Regions from separate parts of the Homo sapiens genome. Here region 2 is linked to region 1. The links come from fine-mapping of genetic effects on gene expression. A gene starts in region 1. The other region holds a variant in brackets. All regions are shown on one strand. Distances are from middle to middle.

Region 1 (2,774 bases):
TGTTTGTGGAAGGATTTAAATACCAGGCTAAGGACTTTGAGATTTATCGTCTAAAGTTCATTGAGCACTTATTCATTGTTGGGTACCGCGCTAAGCCCGTATATGTAATTCTCACAATAAACTGACGGAAATGGTGCTATTTTGCAGCTTAGCCAACAAAGTTGTTTTTGAACAGGGAACGACATAAATCCGTTTGTTTAGGCCAGGCACGGTGGCTCACGCCTGTAATCCCAGAACTTTGGAAGGCCAAACCGGGCGGATCACGAGGTCAGGAGTTCCAGACCAGCCTGGCCAACATGGTGAAACCCAGTATCTACTAAAAATACAAAAATTAGCTGGGCGTGGTGGCACATGCCTGTAATCCCAGCTACTCCGGAGGCTGAGGCAGGAGAATCGATTGAACCTGGGAGGCGAAGGCTGCAGTAAGCAGAGATCGCGCCACTGCACTCCAGTCTGGGCAACGGAGCGACACTCCATCTCAGAAAAAAAAAAAAAGGTATAATATTGAAGAAATCCGTTTGTTTAGAGTGACAAGAAGCACAAACAGGGCAGGTACGGAATACAGACGTTGACATATTCACACTAGCCTTTTTCAGAAAGCAGAGCTCCATTATCTCAAAAAGCTAAAGCGTGACTAGTGTTTCCCACGTCATCATCCTCATTTCCGCAAGGCTGGGCTGGAGAAGAGGAGGTAGACCTAGGAGCCAACAAATGGCTATCAATCCCACCAAATAGGCTCCGCAGTGGGGTTGCTAAACAACGAAGCTTCCAGAAGCGGACCCCAGTTCCCACCCTCTTGCTGATCCTAAAGCCTTTCTATGCAAAAACTAGCGGAATGCTATTGAATGTAGGTTTCCGAGCCAGCCCTATTCTCTCCGACTACTTCAACATCAACGGGGGCTTATTTGCCCAAGGGACGTCGCAACTGGGCCTTTCCCATTCTATTATCACTGGTGGCTCACCACCCCCACTCTCCCCCATCGCCAGCTCCGCCTTAACCTCCCACGAAATCAAATCCCCGCTTTACCAACCCGCAGCAGCCGGGGGCATGGAGAGAGAAGCGGGGGTGGGGTGGGGTAGGGTAGCCGGCCCCTCCCCCACCCGGGGGGGGGGGGGGGGCGCCTCCACCGACTCCGAACTACCAGTCCCGGCGTGCCCTGGGGCGGCGCGGGCGCAGGGGCGCGTGCGCGGCGGGCTGTCGTTGGCTGGAGCAGCGGCTGCGCGGGTCGCGGTGCTGTGAGGTCTGCGGGCGCTGGCAAATCCGGCCCAGGATGTAGAGCTGGCAGTGCCTGACGGCGCGTCTGACGCGGAGTTGGGTGGGGTAGAGAGTAGGGGGCGGTAGTCGGGGGTGGTGGGAGAAGGAGGAGGCGGCGAATCACTTATAAATGGCGCCGAAGCAGGACCCGAAGCCTAAATTCCAGGAGGGTGAGTGTGCGCCTTTGGGAAAAAGGCACCTAACGGCGCAGGAGATAGAGGCGGGCTCGAGGTGATTGAGGCTTGAGGGCCGGGGGCGGCGCGGGCTGCGCCCTGAGAAGGCGGCGGTCAGTGCTTTGTGCGGGGAAAGCGCATTGCGGATGGCAATTCCGGTGCGTCATTGTGAGAAAGCGCTTTGTGAAGCGAGAGTGCTGCGCAGGCGTTAGAGTGGGAGAGAGAGCGTTTGGCGCGTGGCACACCCTCGTCAAGTGTTTGTTATTGTTCTGAGGAAGAGGGCGCGGAGAGAGCAGCCTATTGTAGGGAGGCGACGGGAGCGCCATGGCGGCGGTTAGGGGAAGTGATGTGGCGGCGGGGGGGGAGGGGCGGTGGCTGTTTCGGGCGGTCCTGCGGCGCGCCCGGCCGCTTGGGCAGCTACGACGGGTTTTTCGGTGCTTCCTGGAGCCCCGGGGTGGTTGCGTTCGGTGGCAACTCAGCTGCGGATGGGGGTGGGTTTGGCGCCACGGGGCGGGAGAAGTGCGTTGTAAAATGGCCGTTGCAAGATGGCGGCGCCATCATGGCCGCCGGCGTCTCGGTCCCGTATGGAGGCACAGCTTACGGGCAGATGCAGCGCCCCCTTCCACGACGACCAGAAGGTTGCCGGGGCCCTCCGCATACCACAGAGTGGTGGGTGGGGACAGAAAAAAAAAAGTGAGATGAGCGTTTTCCTCCGCTTTGTGTTGCCTGGAGGCATCACTCTGCTATTCTTGGGCGCAGTGCCGAGATCCTATGGTAATGTGAGTGAGCTCTCGCTTTGCAGTTGCTCGTAAAAAGTAAATAAAAATGATCTGAATGCAGTGTTGACGCCGTTTGCATTTGTAAGTCCCATTGCCTCGACGTCATTTTTTAAATGCAGTAATTGTTTGATTAGTTGCAGTGTTTAACAATGACTTGAAAGTTGAATTTCTTTTTATTAATTGGTTTTCGATTGACATGAGTTTTGGGTAAGGTTAGACTGACTCCCAGTGGAAGGCAGCTCTTTAAATTTTCACAACGCTTCAGTTAACGTATAATAAGGTGGAGGTCTAATAGCTAAAAAGGAAGTAAAGTCCTGTTGAGAAAGGAGGAACACTTTAACATTCCTTTTCATTGCTATGGAAATTTATGCTAGTTACCGTAAATACGATGTCTACATGCGTACGATTTTTGTTCTAGGGGTTTTTAGACTTGCATTAGAATTCCTTTTAGAGCCGTAAACCTCAAACCGTAGTACTGCGTATTTTAAGTTTATGGAATATTTAAGGAGGTTTTAGGGGTATTTTGTTAATGAGTGACTTTTTTTGTTTGTATTTTTGAGACGATGT
Region 2 (2,774 bases), 25 kb after region 1:
CAAAGTGCTGGGATTACAGGCATGAGCCACCACTCCCGGCTGATAACGATTTTTTTTTTAGAAAATGTCTAGATGTTCTTTTAGGGTAATGCTGTCATGTAATAGGATAATAACTGTTTCTTAAAGATGGTTCAAGCTCCCAAGTTGGTATTCTGCAGACATAACTGTTCTTTGCTGTTTAGAAATAGGGGAGTAACTCCAGAGTTCATTCCTTTGTATATGTATAGTGTTGTTCATTGTATAACCTTATTTATTTACCTGAATTGTCATTATGTGTGGTTTTACTGTGAGAGAATGTCTGGTTTAATGTATTTTAGGAAAGTGTTTTCTGTGGCTTATGTATATAATATATAGGAAGAGATTTGGATCAAGATAATGACCTTTAAAAATTTTTGTAATGAATATTTTATTTTTAGGTACCTGGCAAAGAATTCTGCAACTTTGTTCAGTGCCAGCGATTATGAAGTGGCTCCTCCTGAGTACCATCGGAAAGCTGTGTGAGAGGCACTCTCACTCACTTATGTTTGGATCTCCGTAAACACATTTTTGTTCTTAGTCTATCTCTTGTACAAACGATGTGCTTTGAAGATGTTAGTGTATAACAATTGATGTTTGTTTTCTGTTTGATTTTAAACAGAGAAAAAATAAAAGGGGGTAATAGCTCCTTTTTTCTTCTTTCTTTTTTTTTTTCATTTCAAAATTGCTGCCAGTGTTTTCAATGATGGACAACAGAGGGATATGCTGTAGAGTGTTTTATTGCCTAGTTGACAAAGCTGCTTTTGAATGCTGGTGGTTCTATTCCTTTGACACTACGCACTTTTATAATACATGTTAATGCTATATGACAAAATGCTCTGATTCCTAGTGCCAAAGGTTCAATTCAGTGTATATAACTGAACACACTCATCCATTTGTGCTTTTGTTTTTTTTTATGGTGCTTAAAGTAAAGAGCCCATCCTTTGCAAGTCATCCATGTTGTTACTTAGGCATTTTATCTTGGCTCAAATTGTTGAAGAATGGTGGCTTGTTTCATGGTTTTTGTATTTGTGTCTAATGCACGTTTTAACATGATAGACGCAATGCATTGTGTAGCTAGTTTTCTGGAAAAGTCAATCTTTTAGGAATTGTTTTTCAGATCTTCAATAAATTTTTTCTTTAAATTTCAAAGAACAATGTGCTTGTGTTGATGCCTTACAAAAACCATTGTATATTTGTGTATTCCTTCTTGTATTTAGACAGTGGTTTTTCAGGTGCGTGCTTTGTTTTCTGGTATGGCCTTTATGGAATGAGACGCTTTAGCTTTGGTACGTAGCGCTAATCCATAGCAGCTTTGGCAGTTTGCTGTCTTGAGTCTTAGCTAAAAAGTTAGAAGTTTACATGACTGTTTTTTTTATTTTCCCTAAATTATTACTTACTCTGAGCATTAATTAAGGGCATTTTCACCTGTGTAAAATTATGGTCAGCTTTTTTCTGTCTATAATTGTTTACTTTTGTGGGTTTACTCTAGAAACATGAGCCAAAAATGTCAATAGACAACACAGTATTAAAATAACCCAAAAGTTGTAAAGGGCAACGTTTCTCCCCTTTGATAG[G/A]GACACTAAAGTGGTCTGTACTTGGGTAGAGGATGGCAGACGTTAAGAATTAAAATGCGTCTGGGTGCAGTGGCTCACGCTTGTAATCCCAGCACTTTGGGAGGCTGAGGCGGGCGGATCACCTGAGGTCAGGAGTTCGACACCAGCCTGATGAACATGGAGAAACCCCATCTCTACTAAAAATACAAATATTAGCTGGGCGTTGTGGCGCACGCCTGTAATCCCAGCGACTCACGAGGCTGAGGCAGGAGAATTGCTTGAACTCAGGAGGCAGAGGTTGCAGTGAGCCAAGATTGTGCCATTGCACTCCAGCCTGGGCAACAAGAGTGAAACTCTGTCTCAAAAAAAAAAAAAAAAAAACCCTCAGAAAACAATTAAAATGCAAAGCAGCAGATAAGTTCAGATGGCGAGAGTTACAGCAGCAATACAAGAGGGATAATGAGTGCAGGAGGGAAATAGGAGTAAGTTCCAAAGAAGCAGGATTTGCTTGGGTTGTTTGAAGGGAACTGCTTCTACCCATAGTTGTCTTCCTGCCGCCTCCTTCATTCGGCTTACTTGTTCTCTTTTTCTTTACCCTTTTTGTCACAACTGTACTGATTTAGTTGGATTTCTAACAAATAGGGATTGTTGTTGCCTGGGGTCTTTCAGCTGTTGAAAGTTCTTGTTTATCTAGATGTGACTTAAAAAATGAAACACTTCAAGAATTTACGTGTCATTCTTGGCACAGGGGCCATGCTAATCTTGATTGTTTGAATTTTTAATATTTTTGCTAACAAAATGAGCCCTAGATGTGATTTTTTTTTTTAATGTGTACTCATGGTCCCTTGAACATTAGTGTTACTGGTTAGGTATTTAAAGATTTTCTTGCCGAGCGTGGTGGCTCACACCTGTAATCTGTAATCTCAGCACTTTGGGGCTGAGGTGGGAGGATTACTTGAGCCCAGGAGTTTGAAAGTAGCGTGGGTAACGTAGGGAAGAGACCTTGTCTCTACAAATAATTTTTTTTTTTTTTTTTGAGGCAGAGTCTCTCTCTGTCATCCAGGCTGGAGTGCAGTGGTGTGATCTCGGCTCACTGCAAGCTCCGCGTCCTGGGTTCATGCCATTCTCCAGACTCAGCCTCCCGAGTAGCTGGGACTACAGGCACCCGCCACCATGCCTGGCTAATTGTTTGTATTTTTAGTA

Evidence for each region. PIP is the estimated chance that this variant, and not a neighbour inherited with it, causes the effect.
Region 2: its variant is the best candidate, but not a certain one, in a credible set for the expression of MORF4L1 in whole blood (TOPMed, PIP 0.71).

What each region holds. Positions count from the first base shown.
Region 1 is chr15:78,871,633-78,874,406 of GRCh38, forward strand. MORF4L1 (mortality factor 4 like 1) reads left to right here and starts at 1,258. Exons shown (of 12, transcript NM_006791.4): 1 at 1,258-1,425. The coding sequence starts at 1,386. RefSeq lists silencers at 1,030-1,289, 1,700-1,759, 2,761-2,774 and enhancers at 1,845-2,476, 1,870-2,109.
Region 2 is chr15:78,896,567-78,899,340 of GRCh38, forward strand. MORF4L1 (mortality factor 4 like 1) reads left to right here. Exons shown (of 12, transcript NM_006791.4): 12 at 417-1,573. The coding sequence ends at 501. It also overlaps the pseudogene RNU6-415P. Among named protein-coding and RNA genes, the nearest start is that of MORF4L1, 25 kb to the left of the region's middle. The variant G/A (reference allele first, on the strand shown) is at 1,593.